2 separate regions of the Homo sapiens genome follow, and region 2 is linked to region 1. Evidence: fine-mapped expression QTL. A gene starts in region 1. The other region holds a variant in brackets. All regions are shown on one strand. Distances are between the middles of the regions. Region 1 holds the start of ETF1 (eukaryotic translation termination factor 1). Region 2 overlaps ETF1 (eukaryotic translation termination factor 1).

Region 1 (8,901 bases):
TGATTTTTTTTTCTTGTTTTTGTAGAGACCAGTTCTCTCTAAGCACAAAGACTTATTTGTGCTTTCAACATCAAAACTTATAACAGGCCTGTAATCCCAACACTTTGGGAGGCTGAGGCAGGTGGGTCACGTGAGGTCAGGAGTTCGAGATCAGCCTGGGCAACATGGTGAAACCCCTATCTCTACTAAACATACAAAAATTAGCCAGGCATCATGGCCTGCGCCTGTGGTCCCAGCTACTAGGGAGGCTGAGGCAGGTGGGTCACGTGGGGTCAGGAGTTCGAGATCAGCCTGGGCAACATGGTGAAACCCCCATCTCTACTAAAAATACAAAAATTAGCCAGGCATCATGGCCCACGCCTGTGGTCCCAGCTACTAGGGAGGCTGAGGTGGAAGGATCGCTTAAGTCCTGGGGTCAAGGTTGCAGTGAGTTATTATCGTACCACTGTACTCCAGCCTGGGCAACAGTGAGACCCTGCCTCAAAAAAAAAAAAGAAAATGAAACAAAAACTTACTTGCCTACTCCCACCTAATTAGGTAGGAACATCACCTATATCCCAATATTTAACTTTGTTACATAATGTTTGAGCTGAGGAGGAAGTTCTGAGATCATAAAGAACAATTCCTTTATTTTTCAGAGAATCTGTGTGCCTAGAGAGGTTATATATTTTGTTCTCACCATTTAGCAGTTTGAAAAATCTGTATCACTTTTATATCACAGAACATTCCTCAACAATGAATCGTCATGGTCCCATTTAAAAAGCCTTGATGCAGGCACTACCATCCGTGCTTCATACATCCCAAACCTCTTCACGTAGATAGTTATCCCAGCCTTTGCCTCTAATGCACTGATTTCTAATTCTAAATGCAGAGATGGTGAATTTGCAGCAACTAGGCAAGGAGCTTTTGGGGCTACCTGGGCCTGCAATTGTCTAAGAAATAAGTTTTAAGAATTCAGAGGCTGAAAACAGCAATCCTACTTGGGATGTCGTCATGCTTACTTCAGCCTGAATCACACAGAAGAAAGCCTTCAAGCATGGACCTGAAGCAATGCTGTAAACACAAACATCAAAAGGAAGAGGAGGCCAGGTGTGGTGGCTCACGCATGTAATCCCAGCACTTTGGGAAGCGGAGGCAGGTGGATCACCTGAGGTCAGGAATTCAAGATCAGCCTGGCCAACATGGTGAAACCCTGTCTCTGCTAAAAAAAAAATAAAAAATAAAAAATACAAAAACTGGCCCGGCATGGTGGTTCACGCCTGTAATCCCAGCACTTTGGGAGGCCGAGGCAGGCAGATCACGAGGTCAGGAGATCGAGACCATCCTGGCTAACACGGTGAAACCCCGACTCTAATAAAAATACAAAAAATTAGCTGGGCATGGTGGCACCCGCCTGTAGTCCCAGCTACTCAGGAGGCTGCCGCAGAAGAATCGCTTGAACCCGGGATGTGGAGGTTGCAGTGAGCCAAGATCGTGCCACTGCACTCCAACCTGGGCGACAAAGGGAGACTCCGTCTTTAAAAAAAAAAAAAAAAAGAACAGGAAGGGTAGAGTAGGGCAATCTAATATAGAAAGGAGGAACCAGGGCAAGAGGAATGAAGGAAAACCTTGGACACAGTTGATTCCTAGTCAGTAAGCAGTGTTTATGACTAAGAAGACCCCTCCGTTCACTACTAAACACAGTGAATGACACACACACAGCAGGAGTACAATATTATATAACAAATAAACATATGCCAAAAACTACAAAATGGAACCCAAAGAAGAGGTTCCAACCTGAGATTCATTTCCTGGGGGACAGAAGTATGACCGTGTCCCCACCCTATGAAAATACAGGTAATGGGGTCACTGTATAATACACTGGACTCCAAAAATGGAGTCGGGAAGCCATAAACTAGCTGTGGACTCTGAGCAGATCCCTTTCACTTTTCTTTGCCTCAGTTTCCCCATGTATGAAATGGAGGTCATACCCCCATCTTCAAAGTGTGGACACAGTTTATAACACATGCAAAAAGTATTCAAAAACCATACAAATGAAAGCGCATGACGGACATCCCTACTTACATGTCTCATAAGCAATCTCAAACTTAACAGGCCCAAGATGAAATTCTCAATCATCCCCCAACACCTACTCCTCACCTTTCCCACCTCAGTAAATGTCACCACTTCAGTACTCTGGGAACCATTCTTGGTTTTCCTCAACCAATCCATCATCCAGTCCTATTCACTTTTTTTTTTTCCTCGAGACAAGGTCTCGCTCTGTCACCCAGGCTGGAGTGTAGTGGTGTGATCTCAGCTCACTGCAGCCTCGAATTCCTCGGCTCAAGGGTTTCTCCCACCTCAGCCTCCCAAGCAGCTGGGACTACAGGCGCGGGCCACCACACCAGGCTAATATTTTGTAATTTTGTAGAGACGGAATCTTGCCATGTTGCCCAGGCTGCTCGCAAACTCCTGGGCTCAAGCGATCCTCCCCTTTGGCCTCCCAAAGTGCTGGGATTACAGCCGTGGGCCACTGCACCAGGCCCTTCATTCACTTCTATCTGCACTGTCACCACCCTAATGTAAGCGAAAATCATCTCTCACATGATAATGAAGCAGCCAAAATGGTCTCTGGGCTTCTCCTGTACTCTCTCCAGTCCACACCAGGGCTCTAAACCCTTTAAACTACCCACTGTTCTTGAAAGAAACCAAACTTCTGAATCTGGCTTAAAAGACCCTACATGACCTCTTCCCCTGCTGCTCCCTCAAACCACTCTCCCCGTCCCTGACCTTGTGCCAGCACACTGGCGTTTCTGTAGTTCTCAACTGTATTCTGTTTCCTCCTGACAAACTCTTAATCATCCTTTGGGTCTCATTTCAGAGCTGGGTCCCCGCCATACACTCTCAGAGCACCCTGAAGTACTTAAGCATTTGTGTAATTATTTTATTACAAAAAGTATAAAATCACAAACTTAAAAACCCAATCGACTATAAGCTCCATAAGGGTAAGTACTGTCATCTGTTTGGTTCACCTCTGTATCCCCAGGAAAACAGGGTCCAGCACACGGTCTGGGCTCAATATTTGAACCCAGACGAGGTGAGGGGGGACAAAGTAGCCACCTAAAAATCCTAACTCAAAAAGATAAAGTTCTAACCGTATGTGGATGCCCATTTTGTTTCAACTCTCTCCACCCCCATTCTCAACGGCTCAGGCCAAATCATACATGGGACCAGATACCTCAGGTCTCCAAGCTCAGGCAGCCCCCGCTGTCTTCCACCCCATAAAGTTCTAAGTCCAAAGTGAGCCCGTCCTAGCTCTGGGGCGAGAGAAAACAGGCCTCTTTCGCCCCTGCAGGTGAGGGTCCCGGACCGCCCGGAGGCAGGTTCCTCATCCAGACCTACTGGCCAGGACTCCTCCACACTATTCCGTGCAGCCATGACGCACGCAGACCGCAGCACTTCGTCAGCGAAGAAGCCGCTGAGCGCGAGGCGCTTCTTCGCGGCTTCTCAAGCACCGTTCAAACCGCGCGTCGGGCCCAAGTGCCTAGCTTCGAGTCGCAAAGCCTCAGATGTCCACCCTATTCAAGGAGAATGGACTGAAAAGACGACGACCCCGGTCCTCTCTCTTTAAGAACCACCCCCATTCGAGCCTGACGGGGGCTCTCAGTAAACTCGCGAGAGCCACCGGCTTCCGCCCGCTTCCTCCTCTCGCCTTGCCGGGCCGGAAGAAAGGTGGCACCTCCCACCCCCCAGCCTTACCTCACAAGGCGGCGCGGACCCAGCTGCAGCCAATCGGCGGGCTCATTGTAGGCTGCGGGGCAGAGAGCCAATGAGAAGTCGCGGCGGACGCCCAGCTTCTCCTCACTCGCACCGGCCCCCTCCCTTCCGCCTGCCGCCTTCCACTCCGCCCCTGGCGGAGGAAGTGATGTCACAGGCCCCATGTGAGCGGATTGCAACACATGCAGCTGCCTGGAGAGAGGGAGCCGGTGTCCTACGTCAGAGCCGCCGCCGCCGCGGAGCCGCCGCCGGGGAGGAGCAGCCGCTGCCGCCCAGGACTGGGCCCTTAGGTAAGGCACAGGGAGGGAAAGGCCGGTGACCTTTGTGGCGAGCTGCACCGGACGGGAGGAGAGGGCCTCTGGGGGATGGCGAGGAAGGGGGCCGCTCTGCCCCAGCGGCGGCGCTAACTCTGTGGTCTTGGTGTCTCCGGGCCCCGCCGGGCCGCTCTAGGGAGGAGGAGGCGAGAAGATGGCGGACGACCCCAGTGCTGCCGACAGGAACGTGGAGATCTGGAAGATCAAGAAGCTCATTAAGAGCTTGGAGGCGGCCCGCGGGTGAGCGCCGCGTCCGGCACCCTCCGTGCCCTCTTGGTTCCCGGACCCCTCAGGATGGACGCCCCCGCGCCGCATGGCCGGATGAGGAGAACCAGGCACTAGCCAACTCCCGCCTTCTGGATCTCTGGGTAGTAGCCCCTGACCCAGGGGCGAGGGTCGGCGCGGTTGGCCCGAGAAGGGGTCCTTTCCCCGCATGGGGGTAAGGGGCCCGCGCTCCCCGGTTTAGATCACTCGGCCCCCCTCGTGGTAGGCCACCGCTACTTTTGCACCTCTCCCGGGCCCTTAAGTCCAGGTCCTCCCTCTTCGGGCTCCAGGTGCTGCCACCCGACTCGGGTGCTATTGTGGCAAAGTGTTCGGCCTTCCTTTCCCAGGGCCCTTCCCTGATTTCCTCTTCTCCCTTCATTTCTCAGCCAGGCCTCATTAAAATGGCCTCTCCCTTCTGGGCTTCTGAGACCCGGGTGGGTGAAGTTTGGATGGGACGGGAAGCAGAGGTGGCCAGGGACAGCTTCTTTCTGATTCCTGATTTCTCTGGGTCTTCCACCTGTCCCAAGATGACTTCTCCCAAGTCCTCTAATTACCCCGGAGCTTCCTGGTTTTAGCTGTTCCAGGACCCACCTATAAACTGAAAATGCCAACGTACGCGCGATGTGAGGGGTGCTGGGTAGGTTTTGGTTAATGAATCTGCATGTGTATGTCCAGGAGAAATACGGGTTAGGGGGCCGTTTGATAGGAATCATAACTACAGAGTCCCTGCTGGCATTTCTCTGAAACTTGTGGGGATATCGCTGTAGAGAGGCGCCTGATGTGCTTGATGCTTGTTGAGTGAGATTCATAATTGAATTAAATGGGCTTTGAGTCTTGTACATTTTGATAAGAAACTGTAGGTGTGTCCATTGGGGGGAGAGTAGGCTAGATTAAAATTAGCTGTGTGTGTGTGTTTTCTTTTTTTTTTAACGTTGTTCGTTTGAGGAAGGTGTGCCAGGGGTATTCCTGTTTCTTTTATTACTTTATTTTGTTCCTTTCCCAGTCATAGAAACTTTTTACTTACAGGAAGTGCCCCCCCCCCCAAAAAAAAGTGTTTGGAACATTATTACATACTTGTATGTCTGAGCATTCTTAGAATAGTAGAATGGCCTGCCTCAGGCCATGTGAAAAGTTGATTTCAGCACAAGAATTTGACATTCTGGTTTCCAGCCCAGGATTGTCATTTATGGGTAGATTTGCAATTTTAGAATGACAGCCCCTCCAAGCTCTTCATTATTACTGTTATATGAAACAGGATGTGCTTAATTGTACTGAAGGCCCAATTCACAGGTTGGTTTTACTAGTGTTTTGTTCTTAATAAATTAGGGACAGTTCTGTTTGGAATGAGGCTTCTAAAAGTTTGGCCCCATTCAGTGACGGGCTTGTGCTCACTCCTTCGGTTTACTGGAGAAACGTTAGTTTAATATGAATCGAAGACAGCGGCTTGTTAGTCCTTAGGTTTTTCTTTGAATTCAATAGAATATCCAGACCTTCTTAATGATCTTACAGGAACTTGTGCCGTATGATAGAGTGACCAGTTATTCCCAAAATGTGAGAATACTGTACAGAAAGGGTAACATAGGTCACGACCCATTATGTTGCACTACCAAGAATTAGCCAGGTTCTTTTGTTTCAGTAGGATCTTGTTTTGTTACTTGAAGCCTTCAATCCAGTATTGCATTTTATAGATTGCTGTTGTTGCAGTATTGTATATAGGTGGATGTGACCTCTGGATTTGTTCTTACTGCTTTCAGTAGCAGGCAGGTTTACACATTTTAATTTGCATACGTTATATTCTCTGAAACAGTCCAAAAAATTAAATCATGACTATAATTTGCCTGTTTGAATGAAGTAACATTGAAGATGACATTGCTTAATAAGTAACAGCATTCCTTTCTACTGCTTAATGAAGGAAACTCATTCTTAAATTTGTTCTACCCATGTTACCTAGCCACTAGAAACTTTTAAGCGCCTCTTTAAGGCTTTTGAAGGCTTTACCTCTTTGTTTAGCAAAGTTCAGTAAAGTTTAAAGCATGCTAAAAATGAAGTTATAAGACACAACTTGTATTTCAAGTTGTTGAGTTTGGATATTTCAGACATGATTAAGCTGTCTAAAATAGCTGGAGGACCTTCCGCTACACATTGTGGTTAATAATCATGTCCTACTTTGCTTTTAATCAGGATTTGGTTGCATCTTGATCCCATGGAAATTTAAAATCTTGGCCATCTCTGAGTATTGGTAAGGGAGTCAGAAGATTCCCCAGTATATACCAGTTTTTGGAGGTGGGAATATTTTCATTGCCAACTTGTGTTAAAGTCAGACTCTAGATTTTCATAGATAGGGTACAGTGGAAAATGTTATTCCTACTTTACCTAGTGATAAAATATCTTTAGAAGAATTGTAATGGGCTTTAAAGACTTAAGTGGATGGCAAAATGAATCTGTATTTGCTGATGTTTTGGGGATACTCTGGTTTTCAGGAGGAAACTGAGGTTTTCAGGCATGGTTATTAGGACAAGGTAGTGAGACTTAGTGGTTGAGTAACAGTATTGTTTTGGAAATGAAAAAGCCCTTTCCTCCCCTTAGCAGTGTAGAATTCTAGGCATAGGAATCATGGATTTGTTTTTAACAGTAGTTATTAAAATATGCTAGAATAAGAGTGATTTTGAAATTAAGATAATCCTATGTGGTTATCTCTTGATATATGACCCAAATTTAATGTAGCTTGAAAAAGGAACCACCTGCAAAATGGGCTCACTAACTACATCTGAATAAAGGGAAGTATGTTGGCAAAATAATTTATTAAGCACATACTATATTATAGACTGTGCTACAGTACATTATTAAGTCATTTAATCCTCACAAGTATTGCCACCATTTGGTAGACAAGGCACCTGAGGCTAAGAGATAATTTGTCCAAGATGTCACAGCAAAAATGTAGCAGAGTTCAGAACTTAAACCAATGTGCTATAATGGGTATATTTTATTTTCAGAAAATACAAAACTAGATTTCCTTAAAATGTAGTCTGAGCTATAACAGATTCTATTTTATGTTACACGTGTGTAGAAGAGCATTTATAGAGGCCACATTACTAAAATGGGGAACTTCATAGCATTCTGTTTTGTAACCAGCATCATACTTAATCTTCTGAGTTGAAAGGAGTGTCACACATAAACTTGATTTTTGATTTGGGTAGAACATGCTTATTTGGTTTCAGATAAGCCTGGTCGAATGTTAGTTTGTGTGTGCTAGTAAAATAACCAGTTAATTATTTTGGTAGACATAGGCCCCACTTAAAGTTGATGGTAGTTCTTCCCTGTTCATGATTGCTCCTGGTATATGCTCCACAGTTGGCTTATGAAGGACAAATGTATACATAAACCAATACTGTGGTTGAGGGTATCTTGAATAAGGAACTAAAACAGGTCAACGTATGTTGGAAAAAGGGGGAGAATTATTGGTTGTTTTTTCCCTTGGTGTTTTCTGAGCAGGCAAGAGGTGGCCTCAGAAATAATGTTGGACACCTTATAGTTTTAAGGTAATGTTAATAAAATCATAACTAGAGCCTGTGCTAGCCAGGGACAGTGGTGAATGTGACAAAGGAATGGACAGTGTTAATTTGGGTTAGGTTGTGTCTGTGGGTGTTAAAATGTCTTCACTTATCTTCACTAGGAAACCTTATGTGTTTCTTATCCAATGAACACTTGGTCAGATAACCCTCATAACCATAACCCTTGTTTGAAGGTCAGTGAGCTTGCAAACTTCTGCTGTAGTGTTTGGACATTTTAAAAACTGTTTACTTAAAAATAACTTGTTGATATCTTAATTCTAAATGAAATAAAATTGGTTGTTCCTGCCCCCAAATATAACCATTTTTAAAGAATCCCCACTGAATTCCTCACATTATATAGATTTAACAGTGTTTTGGCGAGATCATTGAATAGGTTAATGTTTTAAATCTTAGAGATAATTAATATGAACAGATTGCTTAATTTATATACTTTGAATAAATTAAGGTATGTTGGATGTGTTTGAGTACCTTCCCCAAGTAAACATTGTTGGTTAATAGAATATTCACCTAAATGGTGGTGGAAATAATATTCTCAAAGCACTGAATTTCACATTCTTTTTTTTTTTCCCTCACTATCGTTGAAGGGCTGGTTGTAGCTAAAATGATACATTGTGGTCTTTGATACAAATACCTGAACCATTTAAAGTTCAGGCTCATAAAGAAGACTTTTTTTGTCCTCTATTCTGGCTCTTTCCATGCCTCCCTTCCCCCAAACTGTTGGTTAGACAAATTAATAGGCCACATGAGGACTGGGCACGTTGACTCACACCTGTAATCCCAGCACTTTGGGAGGCCAAGGTGGGTGGATCACTTGAGGTCAGGAGTTCAAGACCAGCCTAGCCAACATGGTGAAACCCTGTCTCTACTAAAAATACAAAAATGAGCTGGGTGTGGTGGCTTGCACCTGTAATCCCAGCTACTCGGGAGGCTGAGGCAGGAGAAATGCTTGAACCTTGGAGGCGTAGGTTGCAGTGAGCCGGGATTCCGCCACTGCA
Region 2 (9,915 bases), 38 kb after region 1:
GTTTCATCATGTTGGCCAGGCTGGTCTCGAACTCCTGACCTCAGGTGATCCACCTGCCTTAGCCTCCCAAAATGCTGGGATTACAGGCGTGAGCCACCATGCCAGGCAGCCTAATTTTTTTTATAGAAATGGGGTCTTGCTGTGTTCACCAGGCTGGTCTTGAACTCCTGGGCCCAAGTGATCCTCCTACATTGGTTTTCCAGAGTGGTGAGATTACAGACGTGACCCACCATGCCTGGCCTGGTTTTTGTTTGTTTGTTTGTTTTTGTCTTTGTTTTTAAGTAGTTAAGCAATCAGGAAAACATTTCATTATCCTTGAAATTTAATAGGGAGGAAAATGTAATTTACATAATGCCTCTCCTGCACTGTGAAACCTGTGCTGCTTTCTTCACTTGATCAGCTCTTCCACTGCAGTGGCTTCTCTGGTTTGCTCTAAGTGCATCACAACAGTTGAAAGTATGACCCTCCCGTATGAGATAGGTTTAAATGATAGCTTCCTCAAATTCTGGTTTGGAGAGCTTTGTTCTCTACGAGGCCACTCCCAAAAGCAGTCCTGGAATGTCTCTTCTGAGCCATTGAATGGGTGCTGCTTAGAGACACTACAACAGCCTGACTTCTAGAGTCAACAGTAGGAATCATAAGCTGAATACCCACTGAGTTTTTGTGTTGGTATTTCATAGCTGAGGGTAGAGCCTGAGGAGAAGTGTTGTTTGAAATAATCCGAATTTCTCTGCTGATATCCATTAGGTTATCAAAACCAGAGATGACTTACAGAGCTTTACACACAGACATGCCTATAAATGGGAGGATGAGAGTGATAGGTGGGCAAGGGGCTGTGAGAGGGACTAATTAGCCTTCATATATCCTAATCCCCCATTTTTGTATCTCATGGTCATCCCTGTAGACCGGACAGGAACATGAGCTTATCGAGAGCATGCCCCTGTTGGAATGGTTTGCTAACAACTATAAAAAATTTGGAGCTACGTTGGAAATTGTCACAGATAAATCACAAGAAGGGTCTCAGTTTGTGAAAGGATTTGGTGGAATTGGAGGTGAGTAGCAAATCAGCAAACCAAACTTAAAACCAGGGTCTCAGGTCAAGGTCCCTCCTGGCTAGCCCTAGCCCTGCTTCCGGTGAGGTGCTTATTATCTGCTGGGATAGGTGATTGACGCAGCAGGTGCAGGTTCCTAATTTGGACCCATGTTTATTATTACCTCTTTGCTTTCTGCAATTCTGCAAGAGAATAGGGCTTCCCTTATTCCCTTACCAGCCACCTACACACATGCCCATCCCATGAACACAGGTAATTTACCTTTTGGTTTGTTTCCCCAGGTATCTTGCGGTACCGAGTAGATTTCCAGGGAATGGAATACCAAGGAGGAGACGATGAATTTTTTGACCTTGATGACTACTAGGTAGTCGACATGGGTCCGGCAAAACGTGCCTCACCCTCCAGCATCCAACCCAAGGAGCATACCCATGGTGGAATCCAAACAGATCCCTGCCTTACAATTGGAACATTTCCAGAACTTAATCCATGAGCATTGGATATTGAAAAGAAAACCGAAACAAAACCAGACCCAGCCCTACACTTTGGTTTGTCATGGTGTCAGCGCAGCAGCCTACAACTAAGTTCCTAAACGCCACTTTGGACTAATTTAAAAAAGAATCCCAGTTTTTACTTTTACTGGATGGTGAAATTGGTTGCTCTTGTATTTTATGAAAAAAAATGATTTTTTTAACCTTCATACATAGAAGCAAAAATACTTTAACTGCTGTAAACCTTCAAAAGTTAATAGAAGTGAGATCATACTGGTTTGTTTCTTATTTTGATTGGAGAAAAATTAAATTGCTGCATTTCGCAGTGACCCATTTACATGGCATTCTCAGCTTAGACTGCGTAAGAAGAAATATATGTGGTGAAATGTTGGAACCATTTCTCTCTTGGTCTCTGTTTAATGTTGAAAGGGTGAGCTAATAGGAGGCACTTTCAACTTCACTCCCTCACGCTACCCCGTCCCCCTCCAGACTGGCAGTTTCAAGGATGCAAATTGCATTGCAAAATCAAACTGACTCATGAAGCATTTGGGCCAGTGCACTGTTTACTTCCATCTGTTTGCAGACACATTTGTGCCCGGCGTTTGGGAGCCCTTTGTATCAATGTTCTGACAAGGGTCCCTATAACCTTAACCTACTCGAAACCGGTTTGGGATGGATATGATGGGGCTTCTGTGCTATTGCTGGGATTGGGAGAAATAAAACATGCAATTTAAGTGGAAGCGAAGAAATTTAAAGAGGATTTTATTTTGCTTGGGTCAATCCTTGTTAAAAGGGAGGTGGATGTGTTTTCCTTGTGTTGGATGGCATGAGATTATGTGAATGTTTTGATTTATTAAAATGAACTGCAAGGTTTTTCACAGGAACGACAGACATGTATGACTGCATGTAATTATAAACTCCTGACCTCCTGGTGGGGTTGGAGCATCTGTTTCAAATGTGGGACTTACAAGCACTTCTCACATGAGAAATTAGGGGCGGGTGGGAAGGGATGGGACACAGCTTCTGGCACCATGGATTTAAGACCATGTTGGATCCAAAAGTTGGCCTGAAACCCTGAAGCTTATGCTTCACAGCTGGGCTGTAAGTCAGACTTGAACCCAGCTGATATGCAAGGTCATGGCGTGCCCAGGGTGGTGACAGTTGAACAAAGTGTATAGTACGTGCCCAGTGGTAGCGATGGAAAAAAGTATACCAAATGGACTTTGAAGGACCAAAGGTTTTAAAAGTCAATTGGTATCACCTCCACACTGACTAGGGTAGTGGGGTGCATTTGGTTTTCAAATTGGGTACTTTTAACACTTTAGTGCCTGACTGCTGTTCTTTACTGACTTGATTCAGTCACTCGTAGCTTTATTGGTCTGAACCAGCTCCTTGTTCCCAGGTTACAGACCTGCCTATCGTTCCAATAATCCTGTTTCACTTGAATGAAGGGAGTATGTCTTAAATGTAAAGTTTCTGGTTCTCACACTGTACTCTGAGGTCCAAATACTGTCTGTCAATGTGTAACCTGATGTCTCAACCCCCTGTGAGAAGAGTCCATTATTTGGTGTTCACCAACGTGGGAGACTTCACCGGAACAGGCTTTTTTGCTTTGGGCTCTGCTATTTGTTTGCAGAACACCCAAGAGCGAGCAAACATGCTCTCTTCACAGCAGTACCTTAGGGTTTTGCCATTGTAAATGGGTCTGATGTGATATGACAAGACCAGAGAAATTGGATGTAAATTTACATTTTTGAATATGCTTGTTGTTTCACATGATACATTTAGGGTATGCAGCTCCTTTTGTAGTTTTTATTTTTACTATTTAAGTTTGGAAATGATGCCAAATTTTTGTATTTCTTTAATCAATGTGTTCTCTTCGGTGATATATATTGCATTATATATTGATGTGTGTATCAATATATATTGATATGTATTACACTTACACATACAAACACATATAAGAGGGGGTGAAAACCGTAGCCTTTGCATTCTCTATAGCCTCTGCAGAGAGATACTAAGCAGCAAAATCTTGGTGTTGTGATGTACAGAAATGGAGAAGAGTATTAAACCATATTTAAGAATATACTTTGTGTGCTTGAGATTTTTTAGGACTGGTCTAGAAAGGCCTGAACTGTGGAGACAGTTCTCCAAGGCATACCTCAGATTAGTCACGGCCAATAGCATTTCAGCCTTGGGTTTGAGTTGTGTTTACTACATTTGTCTATGGAAAGGTATATGCAAAGTTTTTCTGAGGTCATGATCCCAGAGTTATGCTAGAAGAAGAAGGTTCAGGTTGCTGGGGCCAAACTAATTTGTATTCTCCCCCATTCTATATGCATGCCAAAGGGAATCTTGCTTTTTTTTTTTTTTAAGGTATGTTAAGTATATTATCCCATAACCCAGCATCCCATGGAGGTAGATGGTGTACCCAATTTTACAGGTGATGAAACAGAACAAAAGAAGGTTAAGTAGCAGCTCTTTAGTGATAACACCAAAATTTTATCCCAGGCCTTATTCCAAAGTTCTCTCTGTATCTGTCTTTGAGTCCTATAATAGAATGGTCCAGATGGAATAGCAGAAACTAGGCCTGGGCCCTCTCTCTCTCCCACGCTCCTTCATCTTACATACCTTACACTGGGTAGGAGAGTAGTAGCCCACCCAAAAGCAGGTCAGGGGCTGGTCCAGAGGAGCAGGGCTCCTAGGCCAGGTTCAGAGCAGAAGAGGATTTGTTTTCTTTGTTTTCCCCCAAGGTTGAGGTGCTTAAAGAGCCTCTTTGGTAGTTTAGGAAGCCTAGTTGAGGAGCCAAGGTGGTGCATGGTTTGCTTTCTCCAGGTTTGAGAAAACTGTTTTAAGTAAAATTGACCAGTAATGGCACTTGGCGTACTTTTCACCCATTTTCTTACCTGATCTAGGTGATAGCTCTGACGACGAAACTCAATTACCAGCTGGGAAGGGGCGAACATGCCTGTGCTGGTGGAAGTGTAATTTTCCCTCCTAATGCGTGTCTAGGTGCTGTTCTTGAAGACAAAATTGTTGGAAGGCAGCACAGTGGTGCAGGATATATGGGCTGTGGTCCTTGCCTGTCTGGGCCTGCAGCACTTGCCATCTTTTGTTCTCTGGCTCCAAGACGCATGCCATGACACTCCCAGACAGGCACGGTGGATTTAGGGCTGAGAGCCAAGGTGGAATTTAAGTTTCATGCCAGCTTCTCCTTTGTTGCCAGCTTGAGTGAATGCCAGGGGATTCCTGCCTGCCAAGTCCAGCCCTGATGGGACTGGGTCTCAGGGGACCTAGGAACTGAACAGCCAAGTGGTGTGGGAGCATCCGATTAGAGCTAGGGAAGCAGGGCACAGTTACTTGCTTGTTTTGTGGCAGTTTGGGTGCTGCAAGTTGCTGAGGATGTGGCTGAATAGCAGGCACTAGAAATAACAGGTGAAAACAATTCACCACCTAAAGGGTTCTCTGTAAATCAAGTCTAAAACCCTGTCTGGTGAATTCTGTTTCAGATACAGCCATCTCCAGGAGTCCTTCCCTGAAACTGGCAGGCTTACCTGGGGCTTAGCTAAGAGCCCA[G/A]AACCAAACAAGGGAGTCAAGAAAAGCTCTGGTTCTGCTGGGCACCATGGCTCACGCCTGTAAACCCAACACTTCAGGAGGCCAAGGCAGGTGGATCACCCGAGGTCAGGAGTTCAAGACCAGCCTGACCAACATGGTGAAACCCCGTCTCTACTGAAATTACAAAAACTAGCCGAACAGGTGGTGGGCGCCTGTAATCCCAGCTACTCAGGAGGCTGAGGCACAAGAATTGCTTGAACCTGGGAGGCAGAGGTTGCAGTGAGACGAGATGGCACCACTGCACTCCAGCCTGGGCGACAGAGAGACTGTCTCGAAAAAAAGAAAAAAAGGCTCTGGCTCTGCAGTTAACTGGGTTTGTGACTTCACAGTATCAGGCAGTCCCTGAATCTGAAGTGCCGTGCCAGCCAGCTTCCCAGGAAGCTATCAGGAGAGTGCAGTAGGAAGCAGGATCTCTGAGGTCTGAGGTAGAAATCCTGGCGCCACCTGAGAGGCTGGCAAATTATTCCATGTCTTTGAGTAGCAGTTTCACCACCTGTAATAAGGATTAAATGGAGTAAGGCACATGAAGGCACTTAGCAAGGACTGGGATGGCAGCTACTCATGGTTCTTCCTCTCCCAACCTTGGTCCTCTGGAAGTGGCCAGGGAAAGTTTGTGCTGGTGACCACAAGGTGGTGGTATAGAGTTAAGGATGCTGACTGGAAGAAATTTGCTTCATCTGAAGTAGGGGGGATTTCTGACAAGCATTAAGAGGTGCCTGGGACAACTTGCTTTGCCCTTAAATTTTAGGAAAGTGGAGAGGGCAGTTTAACAAAGGAGTAGGGATGAGTGAACGGAGAGGAGATCCCAGGAGTCTCAATCCAGCTCTGCCCAGTTTTCTTACTCCTTATTCTGGGCTTTGAGCTATCCGTCTGTGAAGTAACTATAGTCACTGACATTTGTTGAACAGTTATGTAATCCTTAGAAAAACGTAGTGAGGGAGATGCTGTTTATATCTTCCCATCCACGTTCTACTAAGTGGCAAAATCTGGGACTCAAAGTCAGGTCTGTTTGGTTCCAAAGCCAGTGCAAATGCAGGTCATCCCTACAGAGTGAAATAAAACAGCATGAAGAAGGGCTTCCTGGGGGGCCCTTGGCCCCAAGTAGGTGAGCAATCCTGGAAGTGATGAGAAGAAGGCAAAGCTGTACCTGGGAATGTCAAGCCCATTCTCAGAAAGGACTCTCAGAAAGAGTCTCATTCGACTCTAGTCCTTAGTCTACAGCCATACCTTTATATAGCTTTTCTCCACAATACCCAATACTTAGACTTCTTAAGGAATTATAATTTTAGCACCTAATTTTTTTTTTTTTTTTTGAGACAGGGTCTTACTCTGTCACCCAAGCTGGAATGCAGTGGTGCAGTCTTGGCTCACTACAGCCTCAACCTCCCAGGATCAAGCGATCCTCCCACCTCAGCCTCCCGAGTAGCTGGGACTGCAGGCACACACCACCACACCTGGCTAATTTTTGGTTTTTTGTTGTTTTTGTAGAGATGAGGTTTCGCCATGTTGCCCAGCCTGGGTGTTTTTTTTTTTTTGAGATGGAGTCTTGCTCTGTCACCCAGACTGGAGTGCAGGGGTGCGATCTCGGCTCACTGCAAGCTCTGCCTCCCAGGTTCATGCCATTCTCCTGCCTCAGCCTCCTGAGTAGCTGGGACCACAGACGCCAGCCACCACGCCCGGCTAATTTTTTGTTTTTGTTTTTTTAGTAGAGGCAGGGTTTCGCCGTGTTAGCCAGGATGGTGTTGATCTCCCGACCTTGTGATCCGCCCGCCTCAGCCTCCCAAAGTGCTGGGATTACAAGCGTGAGCCACTGTGCCCAGCCTCCCCAGGCTGGTCTTGAATTCCTGAGCTCAAGTGATTGGCCCGCCTCTGTCTCCCAAAGTGTTGGAATTCCAGGTGTGTGCCACTGTGCCGGGCCCCTTAATTTTAGCACTAGAAAGGGTCTTGCACCTTACCTATTCCAATCCCCTCACTAAAGACAGAAGAAAGCTGAGGCCAGAGAGGAATATAGTGACCTGTCAGGCTCATGCAGCAAATTAGCAGAGCCAACATGAACACTTGCTCCAACTCCAGATTCGGTGCTCTTAACAGCCGGATGATCTTGTTATTCTTCATCCAGGCCCTGTTCTCTCTAATGTTATAAATGAGAGAAGGGACAATTGGAGGGAGCACGTGGCCTGAAACCAAAGAGCTAGGAGAGGAAAGGTGGCCAACATCCAGATGGAGTTATGAAAGCTGTTTGAAGTCACTTCCCTGTGAGTCAAGGTTGGCTTGGGTGTGTGGATCAACTTGCTTCTTCAGCCCCCGGCCTTCCAAATTAGCCCCATCTAGCTCTCCCTGACTGCCACAGACTTCCAGCTCCTCCCACTCTGCTGAGATACTATACCTAGGCTTAGCCCCTTCTGCTTGCCTGTCCATCCCCACTCAAAGCTAGAGGGCAAACCCATTTCCAAGGAAGCCAGGAGAATAAGGAAGGAGGGTGGAAACTTGAGAGAAAGGCTCCGAGCAGGAATGGCAAGGATCTTCTGAGAGGCAAAGATGCAGAGATATTCCGATTCCTGGGAGAAGGCATGAGGAGAAATCAGGGCTTGATGATGCCAGGACCCTCTGCCCCATGTTGTATTACTGTCCAGACCCAAAGACATGCCCAGCCTAGGCTCTCTGGTGGGGAAAGGCAACATGAGCCAGCTGGGGTGGGCCTGGAGGGCCTGCAGAGGGGGACTCTTTGTAATAAGGCAGGATGTTGCCTGGGAGAGAGTTGCTCCTCCAGATAAAGACGAATTTCTGTGCTCAGGGCTAGAGGCCCTCCCTTGCACCCCTGTCGGGCTCTGATTCTGAAAGGTAACATGGAAGGAGTTCTACCCCAGTCTCCTCCAGCCTTCTCCACAGACGCACTCCACGGCCACCTCTATTCCTTAAATGAGACTTGGGTTAAGCCAGTCTCATTCCTTGACTCAGCAAGCATTTAGACATGTCCCGTGTACTAGGTCCCGTGCAAGATTCAGTGGCAAACAGTGCAGGTGCACACCCTGCCCTTCGGTGTTGAAGGTCCAGCAGTGGAGACTCTGAACAAGGAATGACAATGAGTGTTAAAGGACAAGGGGAGTGCAGGGTGGCTCCTTCCTCCTCTGGGGGTGCTAGGTCTATGTGGGGACCTGGGTTAGCTGGAGAGATGAGAGGGTGAGTTTGGAGAGGCACGTGGATCAGTCCTGACTGGATCCAAAGGCCAGGAAGACATTCAGATTTCAGGACACTGTTTTTTCTTTTCTTTTCTTTTCTTTTCTTTTTTCTTTTTCTTTCTTTCTTTTTTTTTTTTTTTTTTTTTTTTTTTTTTTTTTTTTTTGAGACAGAGTCTCTCTGTGTTGCCAGGCTGGAGTGCAGTGGCGTGCCCTCGGCTCACTGCAACCTCCACCTCCTGGGTTCAAGTGATTCTCCTGCCTCAGCCTCCCGAGTATCTGGGACTACAGGCGTGCGCCATCACACCTGGCTAATTTTTGTATTTTTAGTAGAGACAGGGTTTCACCATGTTGGCCAGAATGGTCTCGATCTCCTGACCTCGTGATCCGCCCGCCTTGGACTCCTAAAGTGCTGAGATTACAGGTGTGAGCCACCGTGCCCGGCTAGGACACTGGTTTTTTCATCCTGCTGTCATTTCTGTGGTTTGTTTATTAACAGCTTTATTGAGGTATAATTTACAAACTATAAAATTAACCCACTGTAGGTATAGTTTGGCTATTTATTTTTAAAAGTAAATGTGTGTAGGCCAGGCCTACACGCCTGGCCTCTAATATCTTGATCCCGGAAGGTGGAGGCTGCAGTGAGCCAAGATCCCACCACTGCACTCCAGCCTGGGTGACAGTGAGACTCTGTCTCAAAAAAAAAAAAAAAAAAGTAAATTTGTATAGTTATGTAAACATCCCACAACTCACAACTTAATGTTCAGCATCCCAAAAAGATTATTTGTGCTCTTTTGCAGTCAATCTCTGTTCCCACATCCAACCCTGGGCAACTACTGATCAATCTACTTGCTTTGTTTTTTTTTTATTTTTTATTTTTGGAGACAGAGCCTTGCTCTGTCGCCCAGGCTGGAGTGCAGTGGCGCGATCTCAGCTCACTGAAACCTCCGCCTCCCGGGTTCAAGCAATTCTTATGCCTCAGCCTCCTGAGTAACTAGGACTATAGGTGCCTGCCACCACGCCCAGCTAATTTTGCTATTTTTAGTAGAGACGAGGTTTCACCATGTTGGCCAGGCTGGTCTCAAACTCCTGGCCTCATGTTATCTGCCCACCTTGGCCTCCCAAAGTGCTGGGATTATAGGCATTAGCCACCACGCCCAGCTGCTACTGATCTGCTTTCTACCTCTACAGTTCTGGCCTTCCTAGAAATTTTTATATTAATGGAAAAGCACAACATGTAGTCTTTTATGTGAAGCTTCTTTCATTTAGATAAATTTTTGAGATACATCTATCCTATCTTTCTTTCTTTTTTTTTTTTTTGAGATGGAGTCTCACTCTGTCACCTAGGCTGGAGTGCAGTGGCTCAATAACAGCTCACTGCAGCCTTGATCTCCTGAGCTCAAGTGATTCTCTCGCCTCAGCCTCCCAAGTAGCTGGGATTACACCACCATGTCAGGCTATTTTTTGTATATATATATATTTTTTATAGAGATGGGGTCTCCTTATGTTGCTCAGGGTGGTCTTGAACTCCTAGCTCTAAGTGATCCTCCCGCCTCAGCCTCCCAGTGCTAGGATTACAGGTGT

What was found. PIP is the estimated chance that this variant, and not a neighbour inherited with it, causes the effect.
Region 2: its variant is fine-mapped to the expression of ETF1 in whole blood (INTERVAL, PIP 0.93).

What each region holds. Positions count from the first base shown.
Region 1 is chr5:138,538,242-138,547,142 of GRCh38, reverse strand. It overlaps ETF1 (eukaryotic translation termination factor 1), which reads left to right and starts at 3,907. Exons shown (of 11, transcript NM_004730.4): 1 at 3,907-4,046; 2 at 4,207-4,310. The coding sequence starts at 4,225. RefSeq lists enhancers at 2,676-3,465, 3,347-3,746, 3,466-4,255, 3,197-4,396 and a silencer at 4,037-4,086.
Region 2 is chr5:138,499,806-138,509,720 of GRCh38, reverse strand. ETF1 (eukaryotic translation termination factor 1) reads left to right here. Exons shown (of 11, transcript NM_004730.4): 10 at 905-1,052; 11 at 1,334-3,626. The coding sequence ends at 1,416. Among named protein-coding and RNA genes, the nearest start is that of ETF1, 38 kb to the left of the region's middle. The variant G/A (reference allele first, on the strand shown) is at 5,117.